Linked DNA regions of Homo sapiens: region 1 is linked to region 2. A link means that fine-mapping ties the variant in region 2 to the expression of a gene that starts in the linked region. Tissue or cell type: whole blood. Region 2 holds a variant in brackets; the other region holds the start of a gene. All regions are shown on one strand. Distances are from middle to middle. Region 1 holds the start of GOLM1 (golgi membrane protein 1). Region 2 overlaps LOC101927623 (a long non-coding RNA gene).

Region 1 (5,379 bases), 32 kb before region 2:
CTTAGCAAGGGAAGTCCTACTAATAAAGTGCTTAAGGGTTTTAAAGGAAAATAAGACCAAAATGTAAAAATCTGAGAAGGCATGGACTTTTTTTTTTTTTTTTCCTGAAAGTGTGAGAAATATCTGTGTGAAAGAAAGGAAAGACTCTCTGGAAATTTAAGAAACACTTCATAAATTTGGAGACAAGTCTCTCTTTTAATGTAACTTCATCAATAACGTGAGAAGTCCAGAAAACCACCATGATCTTTAAGAACAGTTTTTGGGGAGCAAGTGAAATATCATTCGCCCTTTTCTAAGGTGAGAGCAAAAGCATAGTAGCACCATTCCTTCTGTTCCTTCTACTTTTTTACAAATGTTTAAAAAATTGTTTTGTTTTACAAAAACAGAAGTGCTTTTAAAAAATCCCAATTACAAATGTTATTTCTCACATTACGTCACTGAAAAAGAAATGTATCTTTTTTCATAGGGCAACTTATTTTTTTTTTATTTCAAGAAAAAACAAGTAATAACAATAATGCTGCAGAATTTAAGCCAAAGGCACAGAACACCGCTCCCCCGCCCCCAATGGCCACCCCAGGTCCTTTGAGAAAGGCGGCTGGACCTCAGGGACCACGCTGCCTTCAAGCTCCCTCCCACCAATAGTGCCCATCAACTGACACCTGTCTTCTTCTCAGCACACCTGCCTAAAGTGATGCTCCACCCTTCCTACTGATCCACGCAGACGCATTTTCCCCAGGTTCTGCCCTCTGTACTTCCAATGCAGAAAGCCAGCTCGCACTTTCACAGGATAAGGGTAGCAGTTCCCTCCTTCCTGGGGAAGGTGGCCATATATATATAAACCCGGGTAGCCCTGGGCCTGCTATGGTCAGCTGTCCTAACTGTTGTTTCTGCCCAGCCCTCAACAACAACAACAACAGCGGGTGGAATGTAAATGCAAAATCTTTTCATTTCCCATCAATAACTGGACCTAAACCAGCCATTAGAAAGCAGATGGTATCCCTGGCCCTTAATATCCAAGTCACCACAATTTCCTGGCCCCACCCTCAGCACTACTTTCCTCTCATTTCTTTCGTTTTCCTGTAAAACCAACTTTAAAAAAAAATGTGAAAATTGGATAACCTCTCCATAGGAGAACAAAATGTATCTTAAAAGCTAACCTCTTTTCTTTAACCATCCTAACAATTCAATTTTTGTTCACTGACACCTTAAGAATTGAGTGTCTGGCCTAAAAACAGTAAGTCTTAGCAAGTTACTAGTTTCTATTAAGAAAGAAAGTAATGAGCTTAGCTTCATCTTTTATAACACAACTGGAAGAAGCTAGGATGCCTTTGGAGACCCACAAAAACTGACAAGAGATTGTCCCATGCCCTCCAAAATTCAGAAATACTAAAACTGAGATTTGAGCCAACCTGATGGCCATGAGCTAAACAAAGCCACTCAAGCGCTGCTAAATACTTCATCAGGTTATTGTGTATCTCACTAATCCAGCCCTAGAAATGTTCCTCAATAATGTGCATAATGTAGGGCCTAGGGACCCCAAATCAGACAAAGAAAACCTCAAAATCGTGAAAGTCACACAAGTTTAGTTTTGCAAATCTGGCTATGGGACATCTGAAATTGTCCAGCATCATCATGGTATTTCAAATATAATAATTCTTAAATTTTGCTAAAAAATTTCATCAAAATTGTTATTCTTCACATTTTGTTTCTTAAAAGCAAATCATTAAAAATATTAAATGGGATATGATTTTTACAGCAGGGCAAAGTTGTGTGGATCCTCCACGTTGGCAAAGGTGGAAACACAGGTATGCGAGAAAACCCCGAGCATCCACGAGAACGGGATGCAGCCGCGCTCTGGACGCGCGGCGGGAGGACCCGGAGCCCAAGCTCCGGGGTCACCAGCCACGAGGCCCAGCGGCAACGTGGACCCCAGGGCGGCCGGAGCGCGCCTGGGGCTGGAGGGGAGGAAGAGGCGGCGGGAGCCGAGAGACTCGCGGCTCGGCCAGCCTCCCGCGCCTGGTGCAAATCACGCTGCAGAACTGGAACTAGTGCGACTTAGGGGGTGCACGCTTTTGACTTTGGATGCCGACGCGCGTGACAAAGCTCAGAACAAAAAGACAGGCCCCGCATCGCCTGAGACTGCAGGGCAGGGAATCCTCGCGAGGCCCCTCATCGCAGGGCAAGGGGGCCGCGCGCCCGGTCTTGGGGAGCGAGCCGAGGGGCCCAGGCAGCCGCGGGCTACTCGGTGCAGGAAGGTGCGGAGCCAGCCCCGAGCGCAGCCAGCGAAGGTTGCAGCCCCGGCGCAAGCCGCGGGGAGGCTCCGGGGACCGACGCGAGGTCTCGGCGCGCGGGGTACGGGCCCTGGGCAAAGGAGGGAGGAAGCGATGGACCGCGGTTCGGGCAGCCTGGGGCCGCGCGCCGCCCACTCACCTCTTTTCGAGGCTCCGGCCGCCACTCGGGGATCCGGGGCCCCGCTACGAGGCCGCCCGGGTCGCTCTCCCGCCGCCGCCGGCCTCGAGCTCCGGCCGGCTCCGCGCCGTGCGCCCAGCGCCTCCGCGTCCAGCGCCGCCGCGTCTCCGGCCTCCGCAGCGGCAAGGCCCCGCCCCCGAGCAGCGCCGGCGGCGCGAAGGGAGGAGGCGGCGCCGCGAGCGCGGAGAAGCGAGGCAGGGGCTGCCGGGGCCGCGCGGACTCCCGGCCCCACGGTGCGCGCGCCCCGGCCGGTGGCCGCCCCTCGGCGGGAGCAGGAACGCCAGCGTGCGCCCAGTTCTCGCCGCTGGGCGTTGCCCCTTCCCCCGGGCCACCCCATCGCCCCTTCCGACGCGGGAGCTGGCGCCTGAGCAGCGACGCGGAGCGGGGAAGCGGCTGTGGGGAAAGGGTACCTGGGGGGAGCCCCCATCCCACGTTCCGCCCCGAGGGAATGTTCCCGAACAGCCAACCGCACCCAGCGCCACACTCACGTTACCTTCTTTATAAAAGTCGTCGGGTCAAAACTGCCCAGAGAAGGAAGCGAACGAAAAACAGGTTTTTAGGGGGCTTATACTCACAAAATTGTCTTTTTTCTCCCACGAGGCATTCCCTGTTGACCATCATCTCGCCTCGGTTGTCACCGCTCAGGCCTTAGTGTTTGGTCTGTGACCCTTCCACTGCTAGCAACGGAAAAAGTGAAGATTCCCGGACGCCTTCGGGTGTGATCTTATAGCCCGGGCAGCTGCATTTGAAACAGCGCCTCAGATGACGCTCAGGCGCACTGATGTTTGAGAAGCCCTATGAGGCCGTACCTCCCGGAGAGAATGCCACAAAACTAGTGACCTACAGGGAAACCATGCTAGAAAATTCTAAAGCAATGGTTCTTAACTCTGGCAGCACCTGCCATCCATTAGAATTATTTGGGGAGCTTTTAGAGCATTTAGGAACCAGGGTCCCACTTCCAGAGTTCAAAGTGAACTTGATATTTTTTGTTTGTTTTGAGCTTCCCAGATAATCCTAATACAGTATACGGCCAAGATTGAGAACAGTTTTCCTAGAATCATGTCTTCATGTCTTCCTAGCTCTGGTGTCTGGGAAAGGAAACTCCTTCCTCTGCGCCTCTCTCAAATCACAATAAAAAAACAAGTAAATACATGAACACCTAAAGGAATGCTCACAGCTGAAATTGATTTTAACCAGAACAAAGAGTCACCTTAAAAAAGGTGATCAAGATACCCTATTGCTACCTGAGCATGGAGCTTCTTAACTGCAGGAAACGTATCTTTACCAGCTAAAACCTCTTAGCTGAATTAGAAGCTGACCATACATGACCCCTTTAGAGGAATGTTCTACTATATTCCAAAATGATATTTTTGTTATCTGCAACTGTTAAACTGTTGTAGGGTCAGACCAAAGCATTCAGAAGCTGAGGCTGTATCAGATGTCAGCCCTGGTTTTGCAGACTTAAGTTGTGTCACTTTGATCTTCTAGTGAGCTTAAATAACCATAATCGGGGACAGGTACAGGAAATTCCCTTTCTTGCCCATTTTAGCTCTCTTAGTATAGTTTACATTCTTAGACTGGTGGACTGTAACTTCTATATCATTTGGCTCTAAGGAGGGTCTCCATTAGTCTCTCATTTATCAGCAACTAATTAGCGACTCACTCAGTGATTCTTAAACACTTTATGGAACAGGTCCATATGTCTAGGTGCTAAGGCAGCTGGCTGAATGAGCTATATTTTAATTGAAGATGAATTAGTCCTTTTCGTTAGATTCTTTATGACAAAAGTTGAAAATTTTAAGATGCAGTTTTATATATATCTATATACATAATTTACATTCCTTATAAAAAAGCTAATCAGTTGCTGGCCCTGAAAATTCAATTGGATGGGTTTTGATTAAACAATGTGCAAGGGGCTACAGTGGTTGGTTGAAGGAAGCATCCATGTTTTGCCTGTTAAGCATCCTTTCCTTAATGTCTTAGTCCATTTTGTGTTGCTATAACACAATTCCACAGACTCAGTAATTTATAAAGAAAAGAAATGTATTTCTCATAGTTCTGAAGGCTAGGAAGTCTAATATCAAGGTGCTGGCATCTTGCAAGGGCCTTCTTGCTGCATCAGCCTGTGGTGGAAGGCAGAAGGGCAAGAGGGTGTATGTGAAATTGAACTTGCAGCCTCAAACCCTCTATAATTGGCATTAATTTATTTATAAGAGTGGAGCCTTTATGACCTAAACACCTCCCTTTGGGCCCCACCTCCCAACACTGTTGCACTGGAGATTCAGTTTTCAACACGTGCTTTATGGAGCACACATTCAAACCATAGCATTCTGCTTCTATGCCCCCCACCACCCCCAGTTCATATCCTTCTCACATACAAAATACATTTATTCCATCCCAACAGCCCTAAAGGCTTTAATATTTATTTATTTATTTATTTATTTTGAGACAGGGTTTCACTCTGTCCCCCCGGCAGAAGTGCAGTGGTGTGATCATGGCTCACTACAGCCTCAACCTCCTGGGCTCAGGTGATTCTCCCACCTCAGCCTCCTGAGTAACTGGGACTACAGGTGTATGCCATCATGCTCAGCTAATTTTTTTGGTATTTTTTGTAGAGATGAGGTTTTGACATGTGGCCCAGGCTGGTCTCAAACTCCTGGGCTCAAGCAATCCACCTGCCTCAGCCTTCGAGAGTGGTGGGACTACAGTCATGAGCCACTGCACCTGGCAGCCCTAAGGTCTTCACTCTAGCACCAACTAGAAAGTCCAGAGTCTCATCTAAATCAGATATGAGCAAGATTCAAGGCACAATTCATCCTAAGACAAATTCCTCCAGCAATGAGCCTGTGAAATTAAAACAAATTATTTACTTCCAAAATACAATGGTGGCACAGGCACAGTATAGGTATT
Region 2 (5,379 bases):
AAGAGAGCCCTCACCAGGGACCAAAATGGCCAGTGCCTTGATTTTGGACTTCAGCCTCCAGGAGAGTAAGAAATAAATTTCTGTTTCTTAAGCCACCTAATCTGTGATATTTTGTTATGGCCATTTGAACTGACTCAGACAGCCAGGATCACTTATTTAGTTGTTCATTAATTTATTGATCCATTCAAGAAATTCAACAACTCTCTATTGAGTGCTTTATGTACCAGGCACTGTTTTTGGAGGTCAGGATGCATCAGTGACAGAAGACAAAAAGATTCCTACATTGTAAGCTTACCTGTAGGGACAGTAAACAATCAACATTAGAAGTAACTAAATCTGTGGTGATGATACTATACATTTTGTGATGTACCTTAACAGTACATAAATGTCTTTTACACCCATTATTGCATCTGACCTGGCAGACCCCGGGAGGTATGAGGAAATGAAGCCCACTCTCCAGGTCACATGGCTGGTACCAATTATAGTAGTAGCTAATAAGTATTTAGCTGCTTATTATGTGCTAGGAGCTGTTCTATGTGTGTGTTAACTCATTGAATCCTAGCAACAATTCTAGAAGTTGTTTTCTACAATAAAGGCACAGAGAAGTAATTTGTTCAAGGTCAGCTGGGTGCAGTGGCTCACACCTGTAATCCCAGCACTTTGGGAGGCTGAGGCGGGTGGATCATGAGGTCAGGAGTTCAAGACCAGCCTGGCCAAGATGGTGAAACCCCATCTTTACTAAAAATACAAAAATTATCCAGGCGTGGTGGCAGATGCCTGTAATCACAGCTACTTGGGAGGCTGAGGCAGGGAATTGCTTGAATCCGGGAGGTGGAGGTTGCAGTGAGCTGAGATTGTGCCACTGTACTCCAGCCTGGGTGACAGAGGAAGGCTCCATCTAAAAAAAAAAAAAAAAAAAAAATTTGCTCAAGGTCAGACTATAGTAAGTGCTGAGCCATGTTCTGAACTAGTGAGCATGCATCCGTCATGTGAAGCTCCTCCTTCTCTTGAGCCATCACTCAGTTAGTTGTTTGCCCTCCTGGTAGACTGTAAGCTCCTTGCAGGCAGGCCCCCAACTCTCTGCTTCACCGCTTTCTTGGGCACACAGCAAGATGTCCACAAAGTCTGAACACATAGGCAAACGTGCACAGTGTCATCAAGGACATCTGCAACTTGTAAAATCTGTTTCCAGACTTTATAAATACTCTGTAGGTACTGAATGAATGAATGGATGGATGGATGGATGAAATCTGGGTCCTTTAGCCTTAGCTTCCCACCACACCACCCGCGTTCTTTAGATAGTTAACATCTATTTCCTGCCACAGTTCTCTGTCTAAGAATACAGATTTTGAGGATGAGAGGGGGTAATATAACTAGCTTTGCATTATGCAAGAAGGGAGAGTCATCCTTTCCTTTAATACTTAAATAGTAACAATGCAGGCCTCATTCTTCAGAAAGCCCGGGATCACTTCTAAGGATCCTGGTGAGTCTGCGAATTTCTATACATTCATTTGTTGTTGTTTTCCACTTCTTGCTGTGGATGTGTGCTCTGGGTTTCTCCCGCCTCTGGCCATCCCTGGATAACTCTGATGCCTGCATGGCTGTAGCAGAGACTCTGAATGCAGGTTGTATGCCTGATTTAGTTTCCTACGCTGCTATAATAAATTACCACATATTTAGTGGATTAGAACAACACAAATTTATTATCTTACAATTCTGTAGGTCAGAAGTCTGACATGGGTTTCACTGGGCTCAAATCAAGGCGTCAGCAAGACTGTATTCCTTCTGAAGCCTCTAGGGAAGAATCTGGTCTTTTACCTCCTCCAGCTTCTAGAGGGCACCTGTATGCCTTGGCTCAGGGTCCCCTTCCATTTGCTAAAGCCAGCAACGTTGCATTTTTTGTTCCTTCCTTCTGTCATCATGTTTCCCTCTGACTACAGCCAGGAAGCATTCTCTGCTTTTAAGGGTTCATGTGATGGCATTGGGTCCACCAGATAATATGAGAAAATCTCCCCATCTCAAGATACATATTTTAATCACTCCTGCAAAGTCCCTTTTGCCATGTAAAATAACATATTCACAGGTCCTGGGATTAGGGCATGAACACTCTGGGGGAGGGGGATTACTATGTATACCACAGTGCTGACATCAGTCTTCCCTTCTGTACTAATAGAACTTCTGGTTTTTCTGGTTTTTAATTGAACAC[A/G]TGGGCATCCAAAATAAAAATTACATCTTCCAGCCTCTGTTGCAGCTAGATGCTGTCATGGGAGTATGTTCTGGTCAATTAGATATGGAGATATCATGTGGGGCTTGAGGAGCTATCCCTCAAACATGGGGGAGTAACCTTCTTCACTGCCTTCCCCCTTCCTGAGAATGTGACCTGGCAGCTGTCAGTCAGGTAGTCATTTTGGACCCTAGGTGGATGTGACATGTTGAAGATGGTGGAGCAACAGAATAAAAGGACCCCAGGTTCCTGATGGTCATGGAGTCCCCACACCAGTCCTAGGCTGTTTGACTTTGGACTTTGTTTACATTATTGAAATGTTGTCATATTCCATTACCTTTCACTTGCAAGTGAACCTAATCCTTACTGATATTGTGGCTGTCTCACTGATACAATGGGTTTGCTTCCTTCCAAAGTAGGGGCACAGGCCTTTATTTCTCTTTTTCCCCTAAGGCACCAAGAATACAACATTGTTAGCTATAACCAACTCCACTCACAAACTAAAAATACAGAAAAGAAAAGTTTAACACTGGACATCAGATATCCTAGCTCTGGAAGTCAGTGGGCCATGTCTCTTCAGGGGTACTTATCCCTTCTTCCCCCTTTCCTGCTACTGCAATGCTGGGGCCAGCACCTCTCCTTCTTCCTTAGGAGTCCCCCTCTCTCATTCTGCTACTCTCTGGCCCACCCTCCAAAATTGCTAAACAACCCAGTAATCTCTGCAGAGCCATGCCAGTCCATAACAAGGATGGCCTTTCAAAACATACCAATTACAGTGCATGCTTAATGTCTCAGTAGACAGCACCTACTTTTGTGTAGAAGCTTCATTTATATCCATGTGACTAAAAGGGCTCACCAATGTGATTCCTCCTTGAACTGATGGAAATTTTCCCTTCAAAATAAATTCCAGCTTTTATCACTGTTTGCAAATGTTAGTACTCTAGAATTTCCAGCCATCAGATACATAGATATCCACTGTATGTACATCTATGATTATTGAAGGCAGTAGGGAAAATCCAACAAGGGAGAAAGCTGAACAAGCGTGGAAAATGAGACCAGGAGAAGAAGTGAACAGCTTTGTATTTGGATGGAGAAGAAAACAGCAAATGCTGACATTCGTCAAAATAAGACAGAGACTAGGGTTGCAACGAAGTTGCAGTGAGATGAAGGTGGCCGCACCGGTTGTAGATGGTTGAGATGGTCCCTGGAAGTGGCAAGGCTTGAGCAAGGCTGGGAGATAGCAGCAGAACCTCGATGTGCAGCCTCAGTCCGGGGCAAACGGGCTTCCCCAACACCCCGGCTGGTTGGATCTCTGGCTTTGCATCCTTTCTGATGTGGTTTTCTTCTTTGCATACCTTTTGCCATCACTGATTTACTGACATCTACATTAAGAAGTTGGCCCTGGAGTGAATTCTGAAAATGACTACATACTTCTTGAATAAAGAAGATAGGACTGTCAGTAGAAGAATTTCAAAGCTCTAAGGGACCATCCTTTTATTTTACACTGTGATATGGTTTGGCTGTGTCCCCATCCAAAATCTCATTTTGAATTGTAATAATCCCCATGTGTCAAGGGTGGAACCAGGTGGAGGTAATTGTTCTCGTGACAGTGAATGAGTTCCCATGAGATCTGATGGTTTTATAAGGGGCTTCCCCCTTCGCTTGTCTCTCATTCTTCTCCTTCCTGCTGCCATGTGAAGAAGGACATATTTGCTTCCACTTTCAACATGATTGTAAGTTTCCTGAGGCCTCCCCAGCCCTGTGGAATTGTGAGTCAATTAAACCTCTTTTCTTTATAAATTACCCATTCTCAGGCAGTTCTTTATAGCAGCGTGAGAATAGACTAATATATATTGTTATTAATTTGGAGAACTCTATGAAATGGGTAGGATTTCACCCACTCATAGCTAAGTTGTTAAAACTAGACCCTTTGGTTCATGTTTAAAAACGTTTCCAACAGCTGATGGTTTTACAGGGGCTGAATATAAAAGTATTTGTACTGAAGGATTTTGTGTATTCATTAAGAAACATAGTAATGTCTTTTCTTTAACATTTTAAGGGCTGATCAGGGTTTAATATGATGCAAATAATATGATGATTAATAAGGTGATGTTTTTATTAATTCAAAAGTAAATTATTTAAAAGCGGGGAAGCATTTTGAGAGAAGGAACAAAGTGCTCTTAGACGGCATGGAGGCTATAATACAAAAGATATACAGGAAATGCAGGCCCATAATGTATTTATTGGCTCTAAGTTCCAGCCTAATTTTTAGATTAAGTGGGACTCTTATGAAAAGACAGGTCATGATCAACAGGTTGATATAGTCTTAAGAAAAGTAGATAACATCCAGCTATTGGAAAGTTAGCATGCATGCTCTCTTACTTGGATATCTCCCCCTTTCCTTTAAACTCTTGAGCCCCCTAAAATTAAGGAGTATGTAGTTCAAGCATATTTTTTATTACTGTTACAGTAAGTATGCTTGTGGCCAAAACATTTATTTTATTTTTATTTTATTTATTTATTTATTTTTGAGACGGAGTCTCGCTCTGTTGCCCAAACTGGAGTGCAGTGGTGCGATCTCGGCTCACTGCAAGCTCCGCCTCCCAGGTTCACGCCATTCTCCTGCCTCAGCCTCCGGAGCAGCTGGGACTACAGGCGCCCGCCACCACACCCGGCTAATTTTTTGTGTTTTTAATAGAGACGGGGTTTCACCGTGTTAGCCAGGATGGTCTCGATCTCCTGACCTCGTGATCTGCCCACCTCGGCCTCCCAAAGTGCTGGGATTACGGACGTGAGCCACCGCGTCCGTCCCAAAACATTTATTTTTACAATGTCTGTAACTTGCTTAAATACTTCAGCAAAATCAGCGTGATATTTACTCATTCAACCAATATTTGTGCCCTCACTATTCATCAGGCATTATTTTAGACGCTGCAATGAACAAAACAGACAGAAATTCTGGCCTTTGTGGAGCTTACATTCTCATTTGTTATTTAAATCGAAATTTTATTTAAGAAGAATTTGCATTCTAAAGGTGATCAGCTAGTATTTAACCAGAAAGGCCACATTCCCACAGCAGCTACTGTAAGTACCTGAGAAGCTATCCCTGCTAGCCCTAAAGGCTTTATATGAGGAATGTTAGAAATGGACTCTTG

What was found. PIP is the estimated chance that this variant, and not a neighbour inherited with it, causes the effect.
Region 1: it holds the start of GOLM1, and the variant in region 2 is fine-mapped to the expression of GOLM1 in whole blood (INTERVAL, PIP 0.91).

Annotation. Positions count from the first base shown.
Region 1 is chr9:86,096,981-86,102,359 of GRCh38, forward strand. It overlaps GOLM1 (golgi membrane protein 1), which reads right to left and starts at 2,578. Exons shown (of 10, transcript NM_016548.4): 1 at 2,431-2,578. RefSeq lists an enhancer at 2,019-2,519 and silencers at 2,150-2,199, 2,360-2,459, 2,470-2,789.
Region 2 is chr9:86,129,264-86,134,642 of GRCh38, forward strand. It overlaps LOC101927623 (a long non-coding RNA gene), which reads left to right. Exons shown (of 5, transcript NR_110996.1): 2 at 1-65. It also overlaps the pseudogene LOC100287212. Among named protein-coding and RNA genes, the nearest start is that of GOLM1, 32 kb to the left of the region's middle. The variant A/G (reference allele first, on the strand shown) is at 2,207.